3 linked regions of the Homo sapiens genome follow. The protein of the gene in region 3 interacts with the protein of the main gene of each other region in a biochemical or structural test. Each region holds a gene or a part of one and is shown on either strand. Other genes may lie near its edges.

Region 1 (3,514 bases), on a different chromosome or scaffold from region 3:
CAGTCCCAGCTGCTTGGGAGAATGAGATGGATTGTTTGAGCCCAGGACATCAAGGCTGTAGTGAGCTGTCAGAGACTACAGTAAAGACTGACTGGTGCTCAGAGCAGTTTGGGTACCAGAAACAATGATGTGAGGGTCTATAAAGCAGTCAGTGTCCTTACCAGTACCTCCCTGAGATACCAAATCGGCAGACACCCAAGTCCCTCATATAAAATGTAGTACTTGCATATAACCTGTGTACTTCAAATCATCTCTACGTTACTTGTAATACCTAATCTAATGCAAATATTATGTAAATAATTTATACTATTATTGTTTAGGGAATAATGAGAAGTCTATACATGTCCAGTACAACTCTTTTCCCAATATCCAGTTGGTTGAATCCGTAGGACAGGGACTCAATATTAAGTGTCAATTTAAGGAGAGCAGTGCAACTGAACTCAGGCCCCATGCCTCCATCAGCCAGCCGTGTTTCCCTAAATAAGCACACATCTCGCAGCTTTTTTCAATTCCCATTTATTTTTGGCTCTTGGGGCGATGTCATCTTTTCAATATGAAAAAAAGCAGCAAGTTCAACATAAAATAGAAATCTCAAATGTAGGATAGAACAAAACCAAGTGTGTGAGGGGGGAAGCAACAGCAAAAGGAAGAAATGAGATGTTGCAAAAAAGATGGAGGAGGGTTCCCCTCTCCTCTGGGGACTGACTCAAACACTGATGTGGCAGTATACACCACTCCAGAGTCAGGGGTGTTCATTCTTTTTTGGGAGTAAGAAAAGGTGGGGATTAAGAAGACGTTTCTGGAGGCTTAGGGACCAAGGCTGGTCTCTTTCCCCCCTCCCAACCCCCTTGATCCCTTTCTCTGATCAGGGGAAAGGAGCTGAGTGAGGGAGGTAGAGTTGGAAAGGGAAGGATTCCACTTGACAGAGTGGGACAGACTCCTCCAGAGTAGAGCTTGGAGGGAGATTGAAAGTGGAGATAATACTGCTGACACCTCCCTTGAAGCTGAGATGGGAAATGGACATACTTAGAAATTTAGTGACTTTAATAGCCTGGATTTCCCTCTCCAAAACTTTTAGAATGGAAAATCCCATCCCCTTCCTTATATAGTGACTTCTACCCACTACCTTCTACCATTTTCTACTTTGGGCTTAGGATGATGGCCATTATCTACATGTGTTTTCAGCACCTGGTTGGTTCTAAATGGGATCTGGAGACCCAGCTTCTTGGAGATTTTTAAGAGGAAGTATTAACTGGACAAATGGAATGGGCACCAGAAAGAAATACAGGGTCACCCAGAATGGCAGAAACCTAGGTTTCCCAGAGTGGAAAGAGAGAGGAGACATTCAACAAACAAGTATTTATTGAGCGCCTACTATGTGCCAGGCACTGTTCTAGACCCCCCCCAGAAGAAAAAACAAAAAACAAGATAGAGGCAGCAAACACAAATTCTGAGGGAGAGGAAAGGGGCAGTTGAGTAAGACGGCTAAGGGAACTGAGAAGCCTGAGGTGATGGGGGCTCTGCCTTAGGCCTCCTCTTCGGCCTCCTCACCGAAATCCTCCTCCTCTTCTGCGGTGGCATCCTGGTACTGCTGATACTCAGAGACGAGGTCGTTCATGTTGCTCTCAGCCTCGGTGAACTCCATCTCGTCCATGCCCTCGCCTGTGTACCAGTGGAGGAAGGCCTTCCGGCGGAACATGGCAGTGAACTGCTCCGAGATGCGCTTGAAGAGCTCCTGGATGGCTGTGCTATTGCCAATGAAGGTGACTGCCATCTTGAGGCCACGAGGTGGGATGTCACAGACGGCTGTCTTGACATTGTTGGGGATCCATTCCACAAAGTAGCTGCTGTTCTTGTTCTGCACGTTAAGCATCTGCTCATCGACCTCCTTCATGGACATCCGACCACGGAAGACAGCAGCCACGGTGAGGTATCGGCCGTGGCGGGGGTCACAGGCAGCCATCATGTTCTTGGCATCGAAGACCTGCTGGGTGAGTTCCGGCACTGTGAGAGCTCGATACTGCTGGCTTCCACGGCTGGTGAGAGGGGCAAAGCCAGGCATAAAGAAATGGAGACGTGGGAAGGGGACCATGTTGACTGCCAACTTGCGGAGGTCAGCATTGAGCTGGCCAGGGAAACGGAGGCAGGTGGTGACACCACTCATGGTGGCTGAGACAAGGTGGTTCAGATCCCCGTAGGTTGGTGTGGTCAGCTTCAGAGTGCGGAAGCAGATATCATAGAGGGCCTCGTTGTCAATGCAATAGGTCTCATCAGTATTCTCTACCAACTGATGGACGGAGAGGGTGGCATTGTAGGGCTCGACCACGGTGTCAGACACTTTGGGTGAAGGCACCACACTGAAGGTATTCATGATGCGATCAGGGTATTCTTCTCGGATCTTGCTGATAAGGAGAGTGCCCATTCCAGAGCCTGTGCCCCCGCCCAGTGAGTGGGTCAGCTGGAAGCCCTGCAGGCAGTCACAGCTCTCTGCCTCCTTCCGTACCACATCCAGGACAGAATCAACCAGCTCGGCGCCCTCTGTGTAGTGGCCTTTGGCCCAGTTGTTACCTGCCCCAGACTGACCTGGAATGCAGTCAGGAGAAAAGCTCAATTAACAGGGTATGGAAGATACATGATGTTTCCATCTTTCAACTTTTCAAATAATTCCCTCGGATGTATCTTCTTTCTCCTTCACTGTGATATATTCTCCCCCTACTGCCCCATAATTTACCAGCAATAGTAGGCACTACCTCTACCCTCCGTTAGATTTCAGAACACATTTCTGTATTAGCACTCCAATACAACAATCATCTCCTAACTTTTGCTGTGTCCTTGCACCCAAATAAGTTGAACACGATGGTATATCATCTGCTAATATCATCTGTATAACTCACCAAATACAAAGTTGTCTGGTCTAAAGATCTGGCCAAAAGGACCTGAGCGAACAGAGTCCATGGTCCCAGGTTCTAGATCCACCAGGATGGCACGAGGAACATATTTGCCACCTACAGAGAATAAAGTTAAGAGCTGTGAAATCTGGCAGAAGGGAAGGTTTATAGATATACTGGAAATGGGAGACAGCAGGGATCAGAGACTTGTCATTCCAGGTCCCGCCACCAGGTGGCAGCAGACGTCTTTGGCCCCGACGGTGGTTCACGAAAGGGACAAAATGACAGATTCACCCAAAGGGGATAAGGCGTGCCCAGAAATGGAAAGAGATCCCAGATAAGTGGGAGACAGGGAAGGGAACCTGAGCTGCCCGGGCTCCTGCCCTTACCTGTGGCTTCATTGTAGTACACAGAGATGCGGTCCAGCTGCAGGTCGCTGTCCCCGTGGTAGGTGCCGGTGGGGTCGATGCCATGTTCATCACTGATCACCTCCCAGAACTGCCGAGGGGGAGCAACGAGACCACAACAGGTCAAGTCCCAGCCAACTATGTCCCCAACTACCATTTTATTTCATCTTTTTCTTAATTTTTTTTGAGACGGAGTCTCGCTCTGTCACCAGGCTGGAG
Region 2 (12,828 bases), on a different chromosome or scaffold from region 3:
AGTTTGGAAATTCCTCCAAAGTTACACATAGAATTACAAGATGACTCAGAAATTCCACTCCTAAATATACACCCCTAAAGAATTAAAAACAGGTACTCCAACAAATACTTGTACACAAATGTTGAAGGAGTGCTATTTACAATAGCCAAAAGGTGGAATCAATCCACAGTAATATTCTGTTATATGTATATCATCAACAGATGAATGGCTAAGCAAAATGTGGTAAATACATATAACAGAATATTACTCAGCCACAAATGAATGAACTACTGACACATGCTACAATATAGATGAACCTGTAAAACATTATGCTAAGTGAAAAAAGCCTGACACAAAAGGTCACACATTCTATGATGCCATTTATACGAAATATCCAGAACGGGTAAATTCAGAGACAGAAAGGAAATTGGTGGTTGCCAGGAGATAGTGGAGCGGAGAATAGGGAGGGGCAGCTTAATGGATCCTATTTTGTAGTTTCAAAATGAAATGTTTTGGAACCACATAGAGGAGGTATTTGTGAACATTTTGAATGTAGTAAATGCTGTTGAATTGTATATTTTTAAATGGTTAGCTTTTTGTTACAAGAATTTCACCTTAATTAAAAAATATAGACAGCAAAAGCTGTTAGAAATACAAGGGAGGCTGCCAGGCATGGTGGCTCACGCCTGTAATCCCAGCACTTTGGGAGGCTGAGGCAGGCAGATCACGAGGTCAAGAGATCAAGACATCCTGGCCAACATGGTGAAACCCTGTCTCTACTAAAAATACAAAAATTAGCTGGGCATGGTGGCGCATGCCTGTAGTCCCAGCTACTTGGGAGGCTGAGGCAGGAGAACCACTTGAACCTGGGAGGCAGAGGTTGCAATGAGCCGAGATCATGCCACTGCACTGTAGCCTGGGTGACAGAGTGAGGCTCCGTCTCAAAAAAAAAAAAAGAAAAGAAATACATGGGAGGCTATGAGAAAAAACCCACAATGATAGTGAAAACTTTTAAAACACATTTTAAAATTTGACAGAACAAAGGGACAAAGAATAAATGCAATCTTAGAAAACTGATGGATTACATTAGAAAACGGATCAACTTTTCACCCAAAAAGATGTTTCATACAAAAATCGACAATTTTCAAATGCCCATGTAACAGTGAAATGCAAAAATCATTTATAAACTAAGCCAGAAAAAAAATCATTAAAAGTAGAAATCCCAAAGTAGAAATCTTTTAATAGTTCCTGATCACAATAAGAAATTATTAATTACAAAAAAAATTGTTTCCTACCTCTGTCCATTAAAATCACCTACAAACATTGACCAACCCAACAGTAGTGAGCACCCATAGAATTCAGGTTATAGACCCCGAATGTCATATGCTACAAAAGGAACCGGAGTTCCTAGGCAAATGGGTGATTTCAGGTCTGGGACAAAAAATAATTCTGGAAAATCTATGCATATCAAAAAGCAAGGATGTGATCTAAAACTACTAGGGTAGTGTCTAAACTTAAAGAATTCCTACTAAACTTCATGTGAGCATCATTAAGAATAATGCAAAGGGCTAACATATATTAAATATATTAAAATTCATGAGTTCACAAATATATTTTAAAAATTCACTAATCATCTTTGGAGGATGCCTGGGAAATAACTCACTGTTCCAAAAACTGACAAAGAATTAAGTATTTAACCTGACTTTCTTTTATAAGCTGTACCTCAAAGTAACTACTATATAATTGATGAGGAAATGTTCATCTCTAGAGTAGTATTCCAATTAACAAATGAAGGAAGATGGATAAAAATAGATGATCACCACTGCAAATTCCTAAAGAAACAAAGGACCTAGGCAATGATCATCAATGGCTACTAACACCACAAAAAGATACAGCCAGACTTTATGTTTTTTCATTCGTTTGTTTGTTGTTGTTTTTGAGACAGGGTCTTGTTCTGTTGCCCAGGCTGAAGTACAGTGGCACGATTTCAGCTCACTGCAACCTCCATCTCCTGGGCTCAAGCAATCCTCCACCTGAGCCTCCTAAGTAGCTAGGACTACAGGTGCATGCCACCATACCTCGCTAATTTTTTATTTTTTGTAGAGATGAGGTTTCGTCATGTTGTTCAGGCTGGCCTCAAACTCCTGGGCTCAAGAGATCCACCCACCTCAGCCTCCCAAAGTGTTGGTTTTACAGGTGTGAGCCACTGCACCCAGCCCAGATTTTATGTTTATGTGTCTCCTGGTACCTAAATACTACTTACAAGTATTCTTGACAAAGTCCTACCGAAGTAGATCACATCTCTAGATCTAACGTCTAGTTTAAAGTACTACGGCGGACAGAGCAACATGCTAAATGATACCAGCAGATGAAATCAGTAAAATTCTGAACAGGAGCCACTCACAGGACGAAAAAAACATGGTTTCTTTAACCGAAAACAACAGCAAAAAGAGATTACAAAGAACACAAAAGGGAGGAGGAAAATACAGATTAAAATAAACTTAAGGGACGTATTAATGAAATGCAATGTCCAAACTTTGGATCCAAATTCAAGCAAAATAAATGCAATAAGAACAAATTATGAGACTACTAGAGGAACTTAAGCACTAATTAGATATTTTATAATATTATATAACTGTCACCTATTTTCTACCTTTGATAATGGCATTGTAGTTATGTTTGTCTTTTTAAAAAAGAGTCCCTATCTTTAAGATAATGAAATATTTACAAATTAGGATGTATTTACAAAAGGACAATGTGGTGCCTGATATGAGCTTCAAAATAATTCAGTGTCAGAGGATTGGGAAGGGGAGGTGGAGGTACAAAATGAAACACGACTGGCTACCAAATGAAGGTTTTTGAAGCTTAATGAGTACACAAGAGGTCACTATAGTACAGGTTAGGCATCCTTAATTGGAAAATCCAAAAATCCAAAATGCTCCAAATTCTGAAACTTTTTGAGCACTGACATGACATTCAAGGATTTCAGATTTGGGATACTCAACTGGTAAGTATACATAATGCAAATATTCTCACAAACCACCCAAAATCCAAAATCTGAAGCACTTCTGGTTCCAAGCAAACAATTAAAAAAAACAGAAAAAGACTTTTAAAAATGGTTAATTTAAAAAAATTGATTTTTGCCTTTCAATCTGAAGAATCAGAGATAAACTTACTAGATGAAAGCTTATCAATTCAGTTAAAATTTCAATCCTCCATAACATTTTGATCACTTTCATTAAGCCTCTATAGCCTGAACTTTTGGAAACTTTCCCTATAATCAATTGCAGCCTTACTGTTGCACTAGTCCAGGTACTGGCAAACATCAGGGCTGCAGCCTGTTTCTGTACAGATGTCAAGCTAAGAATGGTTTTTATACTTTAAAAGGTTATAAAAAGTAAAAAATAAAAAAGACTATGCAACAGAGATCATATATGGAGGACATTCAATTAATGAATAACAATCAAGACTCTGCCAGAAGCCCACCATCCCAAACTAAATTTATACTTGAGAGACCTGAAAGTTCTTAAAGACCAGAAAAGACTAATATAAGCATTGTGATTTTTTTAAAAACCCACAATGCACTTTTATATGTATGTTGAAACTCACATAAGTTGTGTGCATTATTTTAGTGTATGTGAGCTTTTATTCACGTTTAAGTTCCAAATTAAACTCTGAAAAAGAATAAACTAACAATAAATCATGCTATAAATTTTCCTTAACTTTTACTGATATCTAAAAAATAGATTCAGTTAAAAACCACTGTTGATAGTACATGGATGATCTCTGCCTCTGAAGCAAGGAGCTTAAAGCTCAGTCAAACACAGATCACAAACTTATAAGAATTTTAGAATTGGAAGGATTTATAGAGGTAACCTATTCTTATCTCCTTGGTTTACAGATAAAGAAGGGAGATGAAGAGACTTTCAAACAGCTAATAAGCTGTATAAAAAGGCCTAGGAAAACAATTTAAGGAAGTCTGTGACTTTCCTATTACATATAAAGTGGTTACTTTCTTAGTTATAATCAGATCTATTTTAAGCCTGGTCCCTGAGAAATATGATTGCACAACACTCCTCAGCTAAGAACCAACAGGAGATTGTATTTTCTGTTTCCTTAGTCACAAAAACTGACCCTGACCTCTCTCCACTGAATTATAGCTAATCATCAAGCCCCAAGGGACCTGAAACTATGTTCCCATCTCTAACTAAGGTTAAAAAGAACTCCTCCCTCCAATTTTTTCCTGAGACATCTGGCAACTTCTATGCATATTTGTTTTGATTAGGTAGTATGGATGCTGCTGCTAACAGGAATAGAAAATAGAAAAATATGTGAGTAGGTAAAGCCAGGAATCTTTTTGAAAACAAACTGAATTTTATTACTATTTAAAAACTGTTCATTTATTCACTTAGTTATACTCAATCTTCTGCCTCTTAGATTCACAAAGACTGTCAATATCTCCAGTTCAAACATTCCCAAGTATCTAACTTTTAATGTGTAATGGGATTTTATTTCTGCAACTGACTTTCTATTACTACCAACGATGCATGAGGAATTCCTAGGTTTTAATAGTGATAATCCTCTTTGCCTGGATTAGTCTCACTTTGAGTAAAACCTTTATGAATTAGGCAAGTTTTTAAATGAAGTTTTTGGTTAATTTGTCTGTAAAACTGAAAAATATCCACATTACATACCCTGCAGGAGTACCTGTGAGGGTGAAGAAATTACAATGTGATACAAATGTGGGCATTATTCTAAAAGAGAAAGAATGCTGGCCTGGTGTGGTGTCTCACACCCATAATGCCAGCACTTTGGGAGGTCGAGGTGGGCGGATCGCTTGAGCTCAGGAGTTTGAGACCAGCCTGGGCAAAATGGTGAAACCCCGTCTCTACAAAAAATGCAAAAATTAGCTGGGCATGGTGGCATGCACCTGTAGTCCCAGCTACTCAGGAGGTTGAGGTGGGAGAATTGCTTGACCTCAGGAGTTCAAGGCTGCAGTGAGCTGTGATCATGCCGCTGCACTCCAGCCTGTGCAACAGAGCAAGTTCCTATCTCAAAAAAACGTAAACAATAAAAAAGAATGCAACCATTTCTGGTTTCACCAAAGTCATTTTCTTTATGAGGGTAATATGATCATAAATATATTAACTTAGACTTAAAAATGGTCAAGATGGTAAATTTTATGTTATATATTTTTAACAATTAAAAATAAAAATTATAAAATATTCCTTCCATTGATAGATGAGTGGATGAACAAAATGTGGTATACACATACCATGGAATATTACTGAGCCCTAAAAAGGAAGGAAAATCTGACACACACAACATGGATAAACCTTGAAGACATTGTGCTAAGTGAAAAAAGCCAGACGCAAAAGGACAAACACTGTATGATTCCACTTATATGATGATGGTTGCATACATTGTGAACTGCATTTAATCCCACTGAACTGTATATATAAAAATGGTTAAAATGTTATAATAAATTTCATGTTACGTATATTTTACCACAATAAGAAAAAATATTACCTTGAAGGTCTCCAATCATCTCAGAATCATGACCTCTGTCTCTTCGTTCAGCTTCTAATATAGCTTGCAGCTGGTAATAATCTTTGTCTGTTTGTGACTTAGAATTCTCTAAAATTCGATTTCTCTCTTGCAACTCTCTGTTCAGGGACTCTAACTGACTAATTGACTTGCTCATCTCTGTGTGACTCTTCCTCAATCTTACAGCTGTGTCCGATTCTGTCCTAAGTAAGTCATTGGCTTCTTCTAGCTATTTAAAAAGAAAGCAAAAAAATAGGTTTCTGACCAAAGTACGATATAATTTAATTATCTACAATTTTTTTAAAAAGGAACCTCATTTGAAACACTTACCTGCTTTTGTAACTGGGACAGCTTCTCATTAGCAAGCTGTGAATTCTGACTGACTTTCTTTAAGTCTTCCAACTGATCCTTTAATGTAGAAACTAGAAAATGAAAGAATAATATATAGAAATTACAACATTTTCATAGGGGAAACATATAAATCCTTTTTTAAAAAAAGACATTTAGTCTTAGGCCATAATAGTCAGCTACATTAGGTCCACTCCCAAAGCCAAATTCCAATTTGGAAGTACCTGCATTTTAAATTCATTAAAAAGTAGAACATTATCTTCTAATACAGAGTGCAAAAAGATTTCTTCTTACTGTTGTAAATCTCAAACTCCTTTATTCCCTTTATAAGATCACTGATAGTATACTTATAAAGCTAGTTTTAATATTATTTATTTTTCAAGAGTTCAATTGCTTGATAATTCAATATCTTAATAAAAATACAAAATTTAAAAGGTACCAAATGGTAGATAGTATAGAATAAGTCCTCCTTTCTCCATTTAGTCATTTTTGCCCCTTCTGAGTCTCCCTTAACTGGCTCTCCTCCCTAATATATATTTAATTTAAGCATATATAGACAAGTACTCTTGTTTTAAACACAAGCAATCCGTTTCTGTCACTTAAAGATCTGTCTTAGAGACTGTTTTATAACCGTATTTAAGGAGATGATTTATTATTTTTTATAAGCCACATAGTATTCTACCATATAGATGTACTAAAATTTATTACAGCATTCATTACCTTTATGTTTCATATATGTATTACATTATGTTTCATATACAGCATTGACTGCATTTTTTTTGTCATTTTAAACAATGCTACAATGAATAGCCTTGTGTATATATCAGTTTGCAGTAGGAGTATGTACGTGAAATAACTTATGGAAGTGAAATTACTGCATCAATGGGAGTAGAAAGGTATTTTAAATATATTTGTAACACAAGCATTAAAACACAAGAAATTCTGGTTTAGAAGTTCTTAGACGCAGCTGCTTGTTAGAAGTACCTAGGGGGCTTGTAAAGAATAATGATACTCAGGCCACATATCTAGACCAATTAAATTAGAATCGCTGGGATTTAGGCATCAGTACTCTTTAAAGCTTCCCAGGAGATTCCAGTATGCACACCATGATGACAATCACTACTCTAGTTAAATGCTACTTACTATTTACTTTAATATGTAATTTAATATTTAATTTAATTACTATTTAATATGTTATAAATTTAACCTGAGACCTGGGTTATTTAGCTTATAAAGTGTCTTAGGATTGTAGCTTCATGTATGTATCATGGACACTAAATTAAAGACAACCTCATGACAGTGTTAGAAATTCTATCATTTTTCAAAAGTAGTGACAATTTACCTTCATTTTCTACATTTCTTCTCTTCTCATTTTCCTGTTCAGCTTTTCTTTGGTACTCATTAATTCTATGCTGTAGCAACATTTTCTCCTTCTCAATCTGAGACACTGTAGATTCTAGATTTCTTCTTTGATTTCCCTGGAATTATAATGATAAAAGTTACCACTGTGATTAATACTCTGGTCATTCATTCAAGTGAGTATTTTGTTCTTAAAAACAAAAAACAAGAAAAAAAAAAAGACAAACACTTAAGATGAATGTTCTGTTTCAAACGCAAATAGTATCTCCTAATACAACTTTCTAAGTAGCTTGCCTTTTAAGAAGACAGTGGGAATCTGTCTTCTGTAGCTGGGACTACAGGGACGCACCACTGCGTCCAGCTAATTTTTCTATTTTTGGTAGAGACGGCTTTTGCCATGTTGGCCAGGCTGGTTTTGAACTCTTGACCTCAGGTGATCCGCCTGCCTCAGCCTCCCAAAGTACTGGGATAACAGGCATGAGCTACTGTGCCCAGCCTAAAATACCCAAATTTTCACAACTTAAAAATGTACCTTTCTGAGTTACCACTATCAGTAAATCTTGTTTTTGATGCTTCACTTTTTAAGACTCCACATTAGGAAACCTGTTTTACAGTGTTTCTGGGCTTTCTCATCTTTAAGCAGAAATTGGACATAAATCATTCAAGGTCTTTCTGATTCTAAGAGTTTATCATTCTAACTTTTAGTTAATTTTTAGATAATTATACATTCAAAGAAAGTTGCAAAGATAGTACAGAGAGGTCCCAAGTGCCCTTCCACTCAGCTTCCCCCAGTAGAGACATTATATATAACAATAGTACAATAACAAAATCAGAAAATTCTCACTGGTATAAGGAGTGTATGATTCTCTCATTTTATCACATATGTAGGTTCATGTAAGCACCACCACAACGAAGATACAGAACTGGTCATCACAACAATTTCTTTCCAGTCACTAGTTATAGCCACACCCATCCCCGTCCTCCCACCACCCATACTCCTGGCAACTAATGGTTCTCCATTTCTATAATTTTGTCTTTTTGAGAATGTTATATAAATGGAACCATGCAATATATGACTTTTTGAGACAGGCTTTTTTTTTTTTTTTTTTTTGTATTTTTAATAGAGATGGGGTTTCACCATGTTGGCCAGGATGGTCTCGATTTCCTGACCTCGTGATCCGCCCGCCTCAGCCTCCCAAAGTGCTGGGATTACAGGCGTGAGTCACCGCGCCTGGCCAAGACAGGTTTTTTTTTTTTTTAACTCAACATAAAGACCTTAAAATCCATCTCTGTATTGTATGTATCTACAGTTTATTCCTTCTTGTGGCTGAGTATTCCATGGTACAAATGTACCGAAGTTTGTTCAACCATTCACCTACTGTAGGACATTTTGATTGTTTTCAGTTTTTGGCTATTACAAATAGAGCTGTTATAAACATTAGTATACAGGTTTTTGTGAGAATATACATTTTCATTTTTCTGGAATACATGCCCAAGAATACAATTGCTAGGTCACATAGTAGGCACATGTTTAGTTTTTCAGGAACACAGCCAATTGGTTTTCCAGAATGTCTGTACCATTTTATATCCCCATCTGCAATGTCCAAGTGATCTAGTTTCTCCATATCCTTGCCAGTTTGCTATTGACATAATTTTAAAACTTACTTTTTTTCATGGTTATGGAGTAATATTTCATGATAGTTTTAATTTGCACTTCCCAAATGACTAATTATGTGAACCTCTTTTCATAGGTTTATTTTCATCCATATATCTAAAAAGTTTAAAAAGTATGGATTCGCTTTCCTTAACACTTATATAGGGCTACTGAAATTACCTATTTCACACTGTATGAGTTGTGATAGTTTGATTTTTGAGAAGTTAGTCCCTTTCATCTACATGTCTTAATTGTGTTTAGAACTGTTCATAGGATTTCCTTATGATTCTTTTGATACCTATATGGTCTATAGTATATGCCCTATTTCATTCCTCATACTGGTAATTTGTGTCCTCTCTTTTTCCTTTATCAGTCTTGCTAGAGGTTTGTTAATTTTGTTGATCTTTTCACACAGCTTTTTGTTTCACTGATTTTCTCTATTGTTTTTCTGCTTTTAACTGCCTTGTTCTCTGCTCTTATCGTTACTTGTCCTTCCTTTTGCTTGTTTTGGGTTTATTTCACTCTTCTTATTCTAGTTTCCAGAAGTAGGAGTTTAAATTATTGATTTTAGACTTTTCCTCTTTTCTAAGGTAAGCATTTAGTGCTATAAATTAACCTTCATCACCATGTTAACAGCATCTCACAAATTTTGATGATGTATTTTCACTTCATTGTTCAAATATTTTGTAAAGATAAAGAGCCATAACAGTTTTATGAGACATAATTAACATTCCAATGTATTTTTTTCACTGAGACTTCTTCTTTGACCTCTGGGTTATTTAGAAGTTTATTGTTTGCTTTCCATGTGTTTGCAGATTTTTCTGTTATTCTCATCTGTACATTTTGGTCAGGAAACTGTATGATTTCAGTGCTTTCAAATGTGTTTGTTTTATAGCTTGGGATGTGGTCTACCTTGGTGTGTGTTCCTTAAGCACTTGAAAAGAAGGCATATTGTGCTGTTAAGCAGAGGGTTCTGTAAATGTTGAACAAATTCTGACAGCTGACAGTGTAGTTGAGTTCTCCTATGTTTGGTGATTCTTACGGGTGCTGAAGTCTCCAACAATAATTATGGATTGGTCTATTTAACCTTCCAGTCTTATCAACTTTTGCTTCACATACTTTGTAGCTCTGTTGTTTGGTGTACAGTTAGGATTTTTATTTATTTTTGGTGGATTGACTCTTATCATTATGTAATATTCCTCTATGTTCATGGTAATTTTCTTTGCTCTGAAGTCTACTTTAATTGGTATTAACATTGCCAATATGCTGCTTTCTTTTTAATATTTGTTATGTTATCTCTTCACATCTTCCGATGTTCAACTTGCCTATATTGTTATATTTGAAGAGTTTCTGACAGATATATAAATGGGGGATTTAAAAAAATCTACCCCTACCACCTCTTTTGATTGGTATTCCATTTAATTTCCATTTAATGTCATTATTGGTAGTATGTTAGGGTTAAGTCTGCCGTTTTTGTTTTTTTGTTTGATCTCTGTTATTTCTACATTTTCTTTCCTGTCTTTCTGTGGGTTACCTGAACATTATTTTAGCATTCCTTTTGATTTAACTATGGTGTTTTTGAATGTATCTCCTTGTAAGGCCTTTTCAGTGGCTGCCCTAGATATTACATTGTATATGCATAGCTTAATATATAGTACACTCCACTGGTATTGGCATCTTACCAGTTTGAGTAAAGTATAAACATCTTCCCTTTCTTCTTTTAATTTTTATCTTATTTATTTTTGAGAAAGGGTCTCACTCTGTCACCCAGGCTGGAGTACAGTGGTATGCTTATGGCTCACTGCAGCCTCAACTTCCTGGACTCAAGCGATCCTCCCACCTCTGCCTCCCTAGTAGCTGGGACTACAGGCGTGCACTACCACACCTGGCTAATTTTTGTATTTTTTGTAGAGACAGGGTTTCACCCTGTTGCTCAGGCTGGTCTTGAACTCCTGGGCTCAAGCAATCCGCTGGCCTTGGCCTCCCAAAGTGCTGGGATTACAGACATGAGCCACCACACTTGACCTAAAAACTTTACCTTTCTTTATGACCCATTACTCTCTGTTTATAATGTCTAAAATATTTTTTCTCATACACAGAGAATCATATTAGACAATATAATTTCTGCTTCAACTGCCTACTATAAAAAATAAAGAGGAGAAAAAAATGTATTTACCCATCTTTTACTGTTTCTTTATTCCTGGTAATTCAAAATTCCTCCTTTTTCTTTTGGAGACAGAGTCTTGCTGTGTCACCCAGGCTGGAGTGCAGTGGTGCGCTTGGCTCACTCCAACCTCCACCTCCCAGGTTCAAGCAGTTCTCTAGCCTCAGCCTCAGCCTCCTGAGTAGCTAGGATTACAAGTACACGCTACCACACTTGGCTAATTTTTTTTGTATTTTTAGTAAAGATGGGGTTTTGCCATGTTGGCCAGGCTGGTCTTAAACTTCTGGCATCAAGTGATCTGCTCGCCTCAGCCTCCCAAAGTGTTGGGATTACAGGTGTGAACCACCCTACCTGGCCAAGATTCCTTCTTTTATCATTTCCTTTCTGTTTAGAGAATTTTCTTTTGCAATTCCTTTAGGGAAGGTGTGCTGGTGACACATTATCTTAGTTTTTCCTCATCTGAGAATGTTGTCATTTTCTTTTTCATTTGAGAAGGATGTTTTAATTGAACACAGAATTCTAGGTTGATAGGTTTGTTTTTTTGTTTTTTTAGCACCTGAAAAAGTCATGCCACTTCCTCCTGGCCTCCATGGTTTCTGATAAGAAATCAGCTGTCACTTACACTGTTGTTTCCTTTCTAGGTAAGGTGTGTCCTGTATTTAAGATTTCTTTTTTGTCATTAATTTTCAGAAATCTGACTATTGTGTCTTGGTGTGGATATCTTTGGGTTTACACTTTTTGTGGTTTGCTAAGCTTCTTGGTAGTTCATGTCTTTTGTCAGTTCAGGTCTTTTGTCAAATTTGTTGAATTTTCTGTCGTCATTTCTTCCCACGCCCTTTCTCCTCTCCTTTAGTAATTCGAGTGACACAAATGTTAGAATTTTATTGTTATAGTTCTACAGGTCCCAGAGGCTCTGTCACTTTTTTTCTGATCATTTTCTCTCTGTTGTTCAGACTGCATAATTTCTATTTTTCTTTGTTGAAGGTCTCTGATTCGCTCCTCTGCATTGTTCACTCTGCTGCTGACACCATCTATTGAGACTTTTATTTCAGTTATTGTAATTTTTGGTTGGCTCTATTTTATATTGTCTATGTCTTTCTGAGACTATTTTTTTGCTTGTTTGTATGTTTACAGTTGCTCACTGAAACATATTTATGGTGATTCCTTTAAATACTTGTCAGATAACTCTAACATCTGTGTCATCTCAGCATTGGTATTAGTTTATTATTGTTTCTAATTCCAGTTAAAATTTTCCTAGTTCTGATTATGATGAGCAGTTTGCTATTCAAACCTGGACATCATCTTACAACATTCTGGATCTTATTTAAAATCTCTTTTAGAAGGTCTCCTCTGACACTGTTCTGGTGAAACTAAGGGGGTGCTGCCTCTTTTCTGCCAGGTGGAGTTTGCAGAAGTCCAGGTTTTCCACTCAGCCTCTACTGACACCTCAGGTAGGGAGGGGAGCAGATCCTCATCACTGCTGGGTGGAAGCAGGAGTTCTGGCACTCTACCAGGCCTCCATTGAGTGCACCATGGCTGCTCCTTATGTGGCCCCCACAGATGACACTGCATTGTGGAGGGGAGCTTGTTATTTTCAGTGGAAAGTTCTGACTCCCTACCATGTCTCTTTGATACCAACCCAGAAGGCAGTGGGAGGGGCACCCCCTTACTGCCAGCTGGAAGTGTAAGTGTAGATTCCCCACATGGTCACTGCTACGCTGTCTGGGGAGAGAAAGAAGGTTTGTTACTGCCCACAGGAGATGAAAATTCCTTTACT
Region 3 (13,199 bases):
AAATATCATCAAGAGAGTGAAAAAGCAAACCCCAGGGTAGGAGATGTTTGCTATGCACAACAAATGTTGGCTTGTCTCCAGAATATATAAAGAACCTCTACAAATCGATAGGAACTCAATCCACAAAGGGCAGCTGACTTGAACAGGCCCCTCGGGGACGAGGGTATCCAAGTGCCCAGTGCTCGGTGGGAAGCACTCAGCTTCGTTAGTATGACCAGGAAAATGCAAATCATAAGGCTTCCACACAGCCTTACAAAAGGCTAAGACATTGCAAAGGCTGACAGTGGCTAGTGCCGGCAAGGATGTGGGTCAACAGGAAACTGTGGGGGCGAATGGCTTTAATCCCTTTGGGAAACTGCTTGGCATCATCTGATGAACGAAAAGACACACTAGATCCCAGACTCAACGGCTCCACTTCCAGATTGACCCAAGAGACTCATGACCACATGCCCCAAAGAACATCCCAGGAATGCCCACGACAGCTTCATCCCTAGTTGCCAAGAAAGGGGAACCGCGTGGACATGCACCTGCTGACAGTATGGTGGTCTCAGGGACAGCGGGCATCCCCGTGGGAGTGTGGGCGGCGCTGAGCACGAGCACCTGGGGCTCCTCGACGCAGTGTGGACGGACCACTCGCGCACAGTATTGATCCACGTTAGCCAGCACAGCAGTGTGCCCACCACGTGGCTTCTGGTTAAAGGTTAAAAACAGGCAAAGCCAAAGCACAGTGCTCAGGAATTGCAGCTTCGACGGGAAAACGGACGGTGAGTAAGACCCCATCCCACTCCCGGAACACGAAGAGAGGCGGCCCAGAACGGCTGGCACTAGAACTGCAGGTGGACTGTGCCAGGTGCCAGGTGGGGCCCTCCCAGCAGGCGGCCTGGGGACACGTGGGCACTGACGAAGGTGGCAGGAACAAGCCTGGTGGGAGGTGAGGCTGAGATGAGCTTCACCCCAGTGGCTCTGTCCATGGCCCAGGCTCCTCAGGCACTGAGAAGGCAGAGGTGCCACCCCGCCGAGGGGCAGAGAAAACCGGCCCTTGGGCAGCCTTAGGAGAAGCGGGGGCCGGTGTGCGCAGGAGAGGGTGGACGCCCCAGATGCAGCCACGGTGGCCAGGTCACCTGCGAGATGCCATGGGTGGGAGATGCAGGTGGCTGTGCAGCGGTGCCCTGGGCTCAGGGGGAGGGGCTGGGTCAGGTCCCCGGGGCTGGCTGGGGCCTGGACATGGCTCCCTGGCCCTGAGGCACCAGCAGCACTTCTGAGTGGGGTGGGACTGGCCTGGTGTGTTTCTGGGCGGGGATCCAGTGTGAGTGGGTGAACAGTGAGTGGCAGCCATGGGCACGCTGAGGTACGCACACTTCACCCACCTCTGTGGGCCAGGAAGGCATGTCACATACTCCTGACAAGGCAGAGGGTGCTGGGAGCTCGCCTGTGTCAGACATGAGGGCCCTTGGACCAGGGCCTGGGTTTGAAGCCACCTCCATACCCCATACACGGTGCTCACTGCTCCTGGCCCCATTGACTGATGACTGATGGCCAGAGGGGGACAGCAGCTGTGTGAAGTCGCCTGGCAGGTGCGGCTGTTGGTGGCACTCCCTGGGCGGAGGCCACGTTGGACATTTGTGAACAAACGAGCAGGTTGGGGTTACAGGTTATAGGATCTGGGAAATGTGGTCTGTGATGCCATGCGCCCTGGGGGATCTCATGGAGCCCACATGGGCAGGCACCTTTTATCATGCCAAGAAGTCAAACGTGGGATGCCATGTGGGGAACATGCCCTGGGTGGGGGAATACCCTGGGTGGAGATGCCATGTGGGGAGGATGCTCTGGGTGGGGAATCTTTGTGGGGGTTGTCCTGGGTGGTGGAGCCTTGGTGAAGGAATGGCCTAGGGGGTGGCTCTGGGAGGGGGTGGCTCTGGGATGTGGATGTCCTGGGAGGGGGATGTCACCTTAGGGGGAAAGCCTGTTGCAGATGCCCTAGGAGGGAAGCCCTGTGTGAGAGATCATCTGGGTGGGGGCTGCCCCGGGTGGGGGATCATCTGAGTGGGGGCTGCCCTGGGTGGGGGATGTCCCCGGTGGGGGATCATCCAGGTGGCAGATCATCTGGGTGGGGGATCATCTGGGTGGGGGATCATCTGGGTGGAGGATCATCTGGGTGGGGGATCAACTGGGTGGGGGCTGCCCTGGGTGGGGGCTGCCCTGGGTGGAAGATCTTATCAGGGGGATGCAGTGGGTTATGGCCCTGTGGCAACCCCAAACACACACACACCAAGAAGAAGCTGGTCTCCCTAGGAGGAGGATCCACGCAGGGCAGCTTGGGGTTTGGCTCGTGGATGCTGGGGACAAGGCCTGAGCCCCAGATGTGGCTGGGCCTGACCCAGGCAGCTCCACCCCTTCCTTCCCAGGAAACACCTTTTGCTCGAGCAGTAGGAACTAGGCGTGTGTAGATTCTGCTGCCTGATCCTGGCTCCTGGCTGAGGGTTTGTGGGCTCAGATGGACTAGACACCCGGCCACAACCCTCCTGGGCATAGCCTTCTGGCTCCCCCAGCCCAGGCGGAGGCATTGAGCGACTCTCCTCACCCAGAGTGTTTTCCCGAAGGCGCTTCTGCCTGAGGGCACCAGGCTGGGCCAGGTACTGCAGGGCGCTGACCAGCACTGGCCTGGGGGCCCCAAGAGCCCCAGATGGCATCCCTCTCACACACTCCCCCTGTCTCACCAACAGCTATAAATAGACTCGGCTCTCTGCTGGCACGGCCTCTCCCGAGGAAGCTTTTAATTCTCTGCGTCCTCTGCAGGGGGTGGCTCCCACAGGCCTGGGAGGGAACAGACTGCCTGACTCTCCAGAGAGCTCCCCAGTCTCCATCTGCGATGGGTGATCCTAATTTTCTTCAGGAAGTTCTCCTGAGCCCTGCGTGTGGCGCTTTGGCCTTTGTGCCCACGGAAGCCCCCTGCGGCCCCTCCCTCCGGGCCCTGCCCAGCCCGGTGCACGAACCCTGTTTACCGATTCCCAGGCCTAGGGCAGCCACTGCCAGTGTGAGGCTTGCAAATTAGGGTAGGGGGTCAAAAGGAAGCCCCTGTTGACCATTTCTGTGAGCATTCTATGCTCATTTCCACAACGAGCATTTATAACCTCGTATAATCGCTAAAACATTTATTGCAACTTCAGGGAATTCGGGAAGATAGACCAACCGCAGCTGTAAGATTAAAACGCAGCCAGTGACCAGCGGAGCTTCCTCCACGCACACGCGGTCCAATCCCCATGACTTCATGTTTTGTGAAGATGCAAAGCGAGTTCATGCCGGCGCCTTTCTGAATCAGAGATCCGTTTAGAAACCATGAAAGCTGCAGACCCCTCCCGGGAAAACGCACACACCCTCCTGGAGCTCGCCTTCTGCAGCCGCTCCGGGAGCCCGCCCCTCCCCCACAGGCCCTCCGAGGATCACGTGGTGGGGAGGCGCTGGCACCGAGCGGCTGACAGGCGCGAGAGCCCAGTTCAAGGCGGCGGCATCAGGCTGCAGCTGCCTCACTCCCCTCCACTTCCTGCCCCTTCCCGGCCTTGGTCCAGCCCCATCTCCTAGTCCCAGGCCACAGGGAGCTGGGTCACCTCCCAGGGGCAGGGGCTGGCTGGGCGTGGGGGGAGACCTCTCCCCCTGAGAAGTCAGGCGGGGAGGGGTGGCCGGGGTGGGCGGAGGGGCCCAGTCCTCTATCGGTCCCCCAGGGGCCCTGCAAGCAGAAGAGCCAATAAACATGCCAGGTGGATCAGCGGTGACACTGAGAGGGAACGCAACACCCCATCAAAACAGCAGCCCCCCAACCCCCATCAAAACAATAGCCCCCAACCCCCATCAAAACAGCAGCCCCCAAACCCCATCAAAACAGCAGCCCCCAACCCCCATCAAAACAGCAGCCCCCAAATACCCATCAAAACAGCAGCCCCCCAAACCCCATCAAAACAATAGCCCCCAACCCCCATCAAAACAGCAGCCCCCAACCCCCATCAAAACAGCAGCCCCCAAATACCCATCAAAACAGCCCCCAACCCTCATCAAAACAGCAGCCCTCAACCCCCATCAAAACAGCAGCCCTCAACCCCCATCAAAACAGCAGCCCCCTAAACCCCCATCAAAACAGCAGCCCCCCAAACCCCCATCAAGACAACAGCCCCCCCAACCCGTATCAAAACAGCAGCCCCCAACCCCTCATCAAAACAGCAGCCCCCAGACCCCATCAAAACAGCAGCCCCCCAACCCCTATCAAAACAGCAGCCTCCCAACCCCTATCAAAACAGCAGCCCCCAACCCCCTATCAAAACAGCAGCCCCCCTAAGCCCCCATCAAGACAGCAGCCTCCCAACCCCACATCAAAACAGCAGCCCCCCAGACCCCATCAAAACAGCAGCCCCCAACCACCTATCAAAACAGCAGCCCCCAACCCCTATCAAAACAGCAGCCCCCCAACCCCCTATCAAAACAGTAGCCTCCCAACCACCTATCAAAACAGCAGCCTCCCAACCCCCTATCAAAACAGCAGCCCCCAAACCCCTATCAAAACTGCAGCTCCCAACCCCCTATCAAAACAGCAGTCCCCCAACCCTATCAAAACAGCAGCCCTCCAACCCCCTATCAAAACAGCAGCCCCCCAAACCCCTATCAAAACAGCAGCCCCCAACCCCGTATCAAAATAGCAGCCTCCCAACCCCTATCAAAACAGCAGCCCCCCAAACCCCCATCAAGACAACAGCCCCCCCAAAACCCTTATCAAAACAGCAGCCCCGCCACTGCCCGGGAGGGACAGGCTTCTCACCTCCCTCGGCTCCGTTTACGTAACCGAAACCGCAGAATAAAGGGCTCCTCAGATCTTCGGGCGCTGCTCCCAGGGGTGCGGGAAGGTGTCCCGGCAGCGCCTCTCCATCGCCACAGGCCCGCGGACAGTAGCCAAGACCCGGGGCAGCTGGAGGCTCTGCGGGGGGCGGTCTGACAGCCCCACCTGCCAGGACGCGGTGGTGTCAGGACCCTGAGATGGGCCGTTTCTGTGGCCAGGGATCTCTCAAAACCTGCTGCGGGCAGTGACTTCATTCCAGCCCTCCACGCCCTAATTTCCCACGCCTCACACCGGCGGCCCCCTAGGCCTGGGAATAGGGAAACGGTTCGAGTCCCGAGCTGGGGAGGGTCTGGAGGGAAGGGCTGCAGGGGCGTCCGTGGCCGCGAAGAAAGGCCAAAGCGCCAGGCACAGGGCCCGGAGACGGTGACAGACCTGTCCCTGGCGCGGCCGACGGTGACCCCCGCTCGCGGCCTTTGCAAAGCCTCCCCGTCGCGTCCTCGCACCGAGCCCGCAGCGCCGAACTCCGGGCATCCCAATCCGGGGGCTCAGGGACGCGCGGGGCGGTCCGGGAAGGGGGCTCGGGGGAGCGCGGGGGGCAGGGGCTGCGGCGCAGGTGGCTGCTGGGGCTGACGGGCCCAGTCTCCGCCCCCGGGTGCCCCCCGCGCCGCGCCCGCGGGACCGAGCCCCGCGCCCGCTTACCTTGGAGACGCAGCGACTGCAGCGGAGGCGCCTCCGCGACTCGGCCGCGCGCGACCCGGTGCTCAGCGGAGCTCTCCAGCCGCCGCCCCGCGCCCGCCCGTCCCGCCCAGCACCGCCCAGCCCCGCCCAGCCCGGTCCCGGGCCCGCCCCCGGCCCCCAGCGTCCGGCGCCCGCCCAGCGTCCCGCCCCGCGCGCTCATTGGCAGCCCCGCCCCCGCCGCCCCACCCGGCCCGGGGACGCGCGGGCGCACCGAGACCTCTGCCTTACAAGGCCGACTCTGCTCAGGCCCCGCGGACCGCCGGGTATCCGCTCAGCGCAGGGCGCGGCCGACCCGCGGGTCGTGGGAACCGCTGGGCAGGGGGCGGCGGGGCCCCTCACCTGGCTCTGGGGCCCCCCGGGGACGACCGGACCCCGATCTCTCCGCCCCGCAGGACGCGCGTTGACGGTGCGGCGGGGGATGGATGAGCGCGGCCGCGGCCTCCTGGGGTGGGGTGGGTTGGCGGCGGGGCCTCGAGGACGGTGCGGGGCGAGCCCCGACCGCGCCCAGTTCTTTAAGGAGCCGCAGACGGTGCAGGGAAGCGGCAGGGCCGGGCTGTGAGGGTGCTCGGACCCCAAGGCGGGGCGCACCCAGGGGACTGGGCTTCCAGGTGGGGGCAGCGCGGCCGGGGATCGACCTGAGCAGGGAGACGGGTCCGTGCCGGGCGCCCAGCGCAGCTGCTCGGGAGTGGGCCGCCCTTCACGCAGGAGTGGAGGAGCGGAGCGCGCACCCCTGACCCCGGCCTCAGCTTCCGTTCTCCCTGCAGGTCGCCCGTATGCAGCGCCACCATCCCGGCCGCTCTTCCAATCTCGCCTTTCTCCGGGCACCTGCCGCCCCTCCCCCGCTCCCCAGACAGGCTTTGCGGAGGGGGCTCATTCCGCCCGGGGCTGCCCGGCCCTCCGCAGGAGTTGGCTCCCCACAAGGTTCCGGGGCCGAGATGACAGGGCGGTTCTGTGGTGCTGGGTGCTGGGACTTGAGGGGCATAGGGGCACCTGCCCTGGAGGAGGCCGAGGCGCAGCCCCCCAGGAGGAAGGGGTGCCTCTGGTGACTTTCAGCTGGACTCTTCCAGCTGGACTCTAGTGCAGCTGAGCTCCTCCCCCAGCCCCGGCTCTGTCCCTGCACCAGGTGTCCAGCAGGCCCTGGAATCCGCAAAGGCAGAAGGGGAAGTTGGGGTGCTGGGTGCTGGGCAGGGGGTGCTGAGGCCTCACAGCCCGGCGGCTTGGCCCCCACCCACCCCACGGTGGTCCCGCGCCCCACACTTCCTCTCCTCTCCTGTGGTTTCTCCTTCCACTCAGTGCTGCCCAGAGATGGGCTTCTGTCTAGTTCTCCTGAGAAATTCCACACTCGCAGCTGGGAAGTCGGGGGACCCCCGAAGCTGTGCGGCGGCCACGCTGCGGCTCCTGCTTCCCTCCTGCTCGGGTGCGGGCTCGGCTGCCTTCTCGTCCCGCGGAGCCCGGAGTGCCTCCCCCTCGGGTAGATCCTACTAACAGCATCAAAGAAATAATGAAATAATCTCTCCTTGGTGTGTTCTTACCGTCCTAATAGGCACAAGGGGACTCTTCAGTGCATTTTCCAAAACCTGTACAAACTCTCTTGACATAAATGCAGTGAGTTTACAATAAAATCGCAGTGGGAGGTAACGTCAGGCTTCAGAGGCAGACATGGTCCTGGAGCCTTTGGGAGGAGAGGAGAGGAGAGGCAGCGGGCGCGGGGCGGCGTCCAGGGGGCTGAGCGAGGTCTGGGCAGGAGGACAGAGCTGAGCCTTGGGCTGCCCTGGCCCCTGCGCAGGACACACAGTGACCGGGGCTGGGGTGGGCACCCCGGTTCTACCGTCGGGAGTCGGCGTGTTCATGGAGTCTGTTTCCTTGTCTGTGGGTGAAACTTTGGCTTGGGGTCACGGGTGTGTTATTTCCCAGCGACAGTCGGTTCAGTCAGCACTTACAAAATCACCAGAAACAGGGGCACAGGATCTTGCTCAGCAGGGAGAGGTGGATCCTGATTCGGGACTCCAGGCTCTTCACCTGGCCATGGCTGCCCGTCCGGTGGCCCTTCCTGGCCCCCAGCTCTTGCTCCACTGCCAGACCTGGACAGCCTCCATTAACCCTGCAATTACTGAAAACCGACTCACAGCCAATGATGTGATCCACGCCAAGTGTCCCGTTATAAGATGTTTCCTGGGGATCCTTAGAAAATCACTACAAATGGGTTGAACAACAGGGCTTTCCTCTTACGGCTTAGGAGGCCAGAAGTCCGAGATCAAGGCCTGTGCGCTCCGGAGGTTCCCACCTCTTCCAGCTTCTGTGGCTCCAGGCGGTCCTGGGTGGTGGCCGCATGGCTCCACCTCTGCCCCTGTCCTCACGGGGCCTCCTCCCCCGAGTTAGTGTGTCTGTCTCTTCCTTTGCTTATCGGGACACCTGTCACTGGATTTAAGGGCCGCCAGGAGAAGCTGGGATAATCTCAAGATCTTTAATCGAATTACATCTACAAAGATCCTATTTTAACGTAAGGTCTTACTCTGAGGTTCCGGGTCAATGTGACTTTCTTGGGTGGGGGTCACTACCACCCCAGCACCAATGCTTTTCCCAGCTCCACCTGTGTTACCGTGTCAGTGACCAGGAGCGTTCCCCGGGACACCTGCCTGCTTGTAGCTGTTTCCACGGCTTCCTGCACAGGTTCTGCGTCCGCAGTTGGGAGCACCAGGCCAGGCAGCTGTCACATAGGAGGAGGACAGCTCTCCGGGACAAGCCCCTGCTGCCTGGCACCCGCGCCCACCCCTGCCTGGGTTTGGGGTTGGGTTTTGTGGGTAGAGGTTCAGGCTGACAGTGGAGGTTGGGAAGAGCAGACACAGCATGGTGGGTAGCACTGGAAGCCCTGGGTGGAAGGGATGGTGGGAGATGCTGGGCCATCTGGGTCTGCAGTGGGAGACCAGGACAGGAGCCCAGGTCCATTGGGAGGCCCCATGCTGAAGACAGAGGCACGGGGAGCGGGGGGAGCAATGGACTCACGCGGACAGCAGCAGACATGAAAAGGCCTCCGAGGCCAAGTGTGAGGATGCCGGGTCCCAGCACTGAGGTGTCCTGCAGCTGGACCTGTCAGGTGTCCACCCACCCCTGGCAGCTGAATGTCCTTTGACGGCCTATAGGCTGAGCAGCTTCTTTGGGCCCCGTAGGGGTGTGTCCCACAGCAGGTGAGCAGTCAGGGCCCCTTGAGAACCCTAACCAGCTCCTGTGTGGGCCCTGGGCTGGGGACAAGCTACAGCCTAGGTGCATGAGGTCAGAGGGGGTGGTCAGTGAAGTAACGACGTGCCTGCCTGGGTGTGGGGCCTGGGAAGCCTCATGGGGGTGTTGAAGCAGCTCCCATGGGTCCTTGGCAGCTTAGGGAAAATGTCTGCCGGGATGTGTGTGTGCACCTGTGTGTGAGAGTGTGAGAGTGTGCACATGCATGCGTGTGTTTGTGCATTCCTATGTGTGAATGTGCACCTGTATGTGTGAGTATGCATGCCGGTGTATGTATGTTGGTATGTGTTCAGCTGTGTATGTTCAGCTGTGTGTGTGTCTATTTGTGTGTCTCTGTGTGTATGAGTGTGTCTGCGTGTGCCTGTGTCTCTGTGTGTGCATGTGTGTTTGCACCTGTATGTCCACGTGCCTGTGTCTGTGTGTTTGCATGTGTGTGCATGTGTCTGTGTGCCTGCGTGTGCCTGTGTGTGCATGGGCCTGTGTGTCTTTGTGTGCATGTGTGTGTGTTTGCACCTGTGTGTGTGCACGTGCCTGTGTGTGTTTGGGCTGTGATTGCATCTGGTTATTCTGGGGGTGGAATTGCTGTGGAACATGGAATTAAAGTGCAGGTTCCGGGTCTTGCTGCCAGGGAGCGACTCTGGCCCCCCTATCACACACCTGTGACCCAGAGAACGGCAGGTGAGCCTTGCGGCTTCACTGTTGCCACAGGTCAGGGGCTGATGAGGAGGGGAAGCCAAATGGGGGGTGTTCAGCCCTAGGCTGAGCTGCTTGGAGCACATTCTTAATACGCCAGCCATCGCTACCTCAGTTCCACAGCCGATGTTAGGGAAGAAAGATGCGGGGACACGGCAACAGGACAGCGTGCTGGGAAGAAAAGATGTGGACAGGAGCCCATGCCTGGCAGAGACACGGAGGACCAGAGAGAGGATGGCGTTGCAGAGCGGAGGGCCGCAGAGAAGGGAGGAACTTGTGTCTGCAGTGGAGAGGACACACCCCTCTGGCAAGGGCAGCCCTGGGTGTGGCTTTCAGAGGCAGTGGGCAATGAGCTCTGTAAAGCCGAGATGGCTCCAAGCAGACCACAAGGAGCCTGGTCAGCTTCTGTCCCTGTAACTGTTTTCCCCACTGCCAGAAGTGGCTTCACTTGTTGTGTGGATGCCCTGCACTCAGCCCAGGACTAGATGGATTCACAGCCAGATTCTACCAAACATATGAAGAACTAATACCAATCCTTCTGAAACTATTCCAAGAAATCGAAGAGGGGGGATATCTCTCTAACTCATTCTATGAGGCCAGTATCACCCTCGGACCAAAACCAGACAAAGGCGCAACAAAAAAAGAAAACTCCAGATCAATATCCCTGTGAATATAGATGCAAAAATCCTCAACGAAATACCAGAAAATAGAACCCAACAGCACATCAAAAGGATAATACACCCTGATCAGGTGGGATTTATCCCAGGGACGCAAATCAATAAATGTGACGTATCACATGAACAGAATTAAGGATAAAAACCATATGATCATTAAATAGATGCAGAAAAAGCATTTGATTAAATTCAGCCTCTCTTCATGATAAAAATTCTCAACAAATGAGGCATAGAAGGAACATGCATCAACATAATAAAAGCCTCATATGACAGATCCACAGCCAACATCAGAATTAAGGGGGAAAAGTTGAAAGTATTCCTTCTAAGAACTGGTATAAGACATGGATGCCCACTTTCACCACTCTTATTCAACACAGTACTGAAAGTCCTGGCCAGAGCAATCAGGCAAGAGAAAGAAATAAAGGGAATGCACATTGGAGAAGAAGGAGCCCAAACTATCCCTTTCTGTTGGTGAAATTATATTCTACATAGAAAACCCTGAAGACTTGTATCACTGCTGGTAAAGACATGCCTGAGACTGGGTAATTTATAAACAAAATGAGGTTTCATGGACTTACAGTTCCACACGGCTGGGGAGGCCTCCCAGTCATGGTGGACGGCAAAAGGCAGATCATACACGGCAGCAGGCAAGAGAGAGGGTGAAAGCCAAGTGAAAGGGGTTTCCCCTTATAAAACCATCAGGTCTCATGAGACTTATTCACTCCCATGAGAACAGGATGGTGAAAACTGCCCCCATGATTCAATTGTCTCCTAGCTGGTCCCTCCCACAACACACGGGAATTATGGGAGCTACAATTCAAGATGAGATTTGGGTGCGGACACAGCCAAACCGTATTACGACTCCACCAAAAAACTCTTAGATTTGATAAATAAATTCAGTAGCATTTAAGGACACAAAATTAATGTACAGAAATCAATAGCATTCTTATACACCAATAACAATCTGGCCAAGAACCAAATCAGGAAGGCAATCTCATTTATTGTAGCTACAAAAAATTACCTAGATATATATTTAACCAAGGAAGTGAAAGATCTTTATAAGGAGAACTACAACACACTGATGAAAGAAATCATACATGACACAAACAGAAAAGCATCCCATGCTCATGGATTGGAAGAATCAATATTGTTAAAAATTATCATACTGTTCAAAGCAATCTACAGACCCAACACAATCTCTATCAAATTAGAAAAAAAATCCTAAAATTCACATGGAACCCAAAAAGAGCCCAACTAGCCAAAGCAATCCAAAGCTAGAAGAACAAAGTTTCAGGCATCACATTACCTGACTTCAAATTATACTACAAGGGTATGGTAACCAAAACAGCATGGTAGTAGTACAAAAATAGACATCTAGATTAATGGAACAGAATAGAGGACTCAGAAATAAAGACACAAAGTCAATAAAAATCAGGAAATGACACTGAGGAAATGACACCCTTTTCAATAAATGGTGCTGGGAAAAGTGGATTGGCATATGCAGCAGAATGAAACTGGACAAATACCTCTCACCATATACAAAAGTTAACTCAAGAGGGATTGAAGACCTAAACATAGGACCAAACACTATAAAAATCCTAGAAGAAAACTTAGGAAAAATTCTTCTGGACATTGGCCTAGGCAAAGAATTTATGAACAAGTCCTCAAGAGCAATTGCAACAAAAACAAAAATAGACAAATGGAACTTAAACTAGAAACCTTCTGCACAGCAAAAGAAACTATCAACAGGGTAAATAGACAACCTGCAGAATGGGAAAATATTTGCAAACTATGCATCTGACAAAGGGCTAATATCCACAATCTACAAGGAACTCAAACCAAATAAGCCCATTAAAAAGTGGGCAAAGGATATGAACAGCCATTTTTACAAAGAAGACACAAAAGTGGTCAAAAAACATGAAAAAAATGCTCAACATCACCAATTATCAGAGAAAGGCAAATTAAAATCTGAATGCAATACCATCTTAGACAAGTCAGAATGGCTATTATTAAAGTCTAAAAGTAAGAGATTTTAGTGAAGATGTGGAGAAAGGGGAATGCTGAAGTACTGTTGGGGGGAATGTAAATCAGTGTAATCTTTCTGGAAAACAGTATGGAGATTTCTCAAAGAACTAAAAATAGAACAACTATTTGGTTCAGCAACCCCACTACTCGGTATATACCCAAAGGGAAAGAATTAATTATATCAAAAACCACCTGCACTTTATGTTTATCACAATACTATTCACAACAGAAAAGAAAATGGATGAACCTAAGCATCCATCAGTGGAGGCCTGGTTAAAGAAAATGTAGCATATATACACAAGGTAATACTACCCGTCCGTTAACAAAGAATGAAATCATATCTTTTGAGCAACATGGATAGAGGCCATTATCCTGAGTGAAATAACTCAGAAACAAAAAGTCAAATACCACATGTTCTCAAGTATAAGTGGGAGCTAAACAATGTATACACATGGACGTATGGAGTGGAATAAGATGACACTGGACACTCCAAAAGGTGGGAGGGTGGAAGGGGGTGAGAGTTGAAAAATTACTTCTTCAGTACAATGTTCACTATTCAGGCGATGGGTACACTAAAAGCCCAGATGTCACCACTATGCAATATATGCATGGAAGAAATCTGCACTTCTACCCCTTACATCTATAAATATTTTAAAACTCTGTTCTTAAATAATTGCATCTCAGAATAAGATTTTATCTTACCTGCATCCCTGAATAAGGTTTACCTAGGTGTGGATTTCTTCTTTTTAGTTATGCAGCTCGTCATAAATCAACTCTTCATATACCTGTGGATTCATGTCTTTTGTCAGTTCTATGAAATCCTCAGGAATATTTATAGGACTACAGAAATATCCAACACCAGAGAAGGCAACAATTTTTGAAATCCAATCAGAAATATTAGGCACACAAACAAGTGGGAAAATAGCCATAAGGAGACAAATTAGTCTATTAAAACTGATGCAGAACGGGCACAGTGGCATTAAACAATATCAAAACTGTATTCCACATATTGT

The links.
Region 1: the proteins of TPPP (region 3) and TUBB form a complex in vitro, tested with the Homo sapiens proteins (one study listed by BioGRID).
Region 2: of the proteins of TPPP (region 3) and ROCK1, one has a biochemical effect on the other in vitro, tested with the Homo sapiens proteins (one study listed by BioGRID).

Annotation. Positions count from the first base shown.
Region 1 is NC_000006.12:30,722,409-30,725,922, reverse strand, and holds the end of TUBB (tubulin beta chain), read right to left. Parts: intron 3,387-3,514; coding exon 3,278-3,386; intron 3,006-3,277; coding exon 2,895-3,005; intron 2,584-2,894; coding exon 1,526-2,583; 3' UTR 501-1,525; downstream 1-500. UniProt on the Homo sapiens protein: Tubulin is the major constituent of microtubules, a cylinder consisting of laterally associated linear protofilaments composed of alpha- and beta-tubulin heterodimers.
Region 2 is NC_000018.10:21,000,843-21,013,670, forward strand, and holds part of ROCK1 (rho-associated protein kinase 1), read right to left. Parts: intron 7,353-12,828; coding exon 7,217-7,352; intron 5,949-7,216; coding exon 5,857-5,948; intron 5,756-5,856; coding exon 5,509-5,755; intron 1-5,508. UniProt on the Homo sapiens protein: Protein kinase which is a key regulator of the actin cytoskeleton and cell polarity.
Region 3 is NC_000005.10:687,757-700,955, forward strand, and holds the start of TPPP (tubulin polymerization-promoting protein), read right to left. Parts: upstream 5,597-13,199; 5' UTR 5,522-5,596; intron 4,988-5,521; exon of another isoform or gene 4,805-4,987; intron 1-4,804.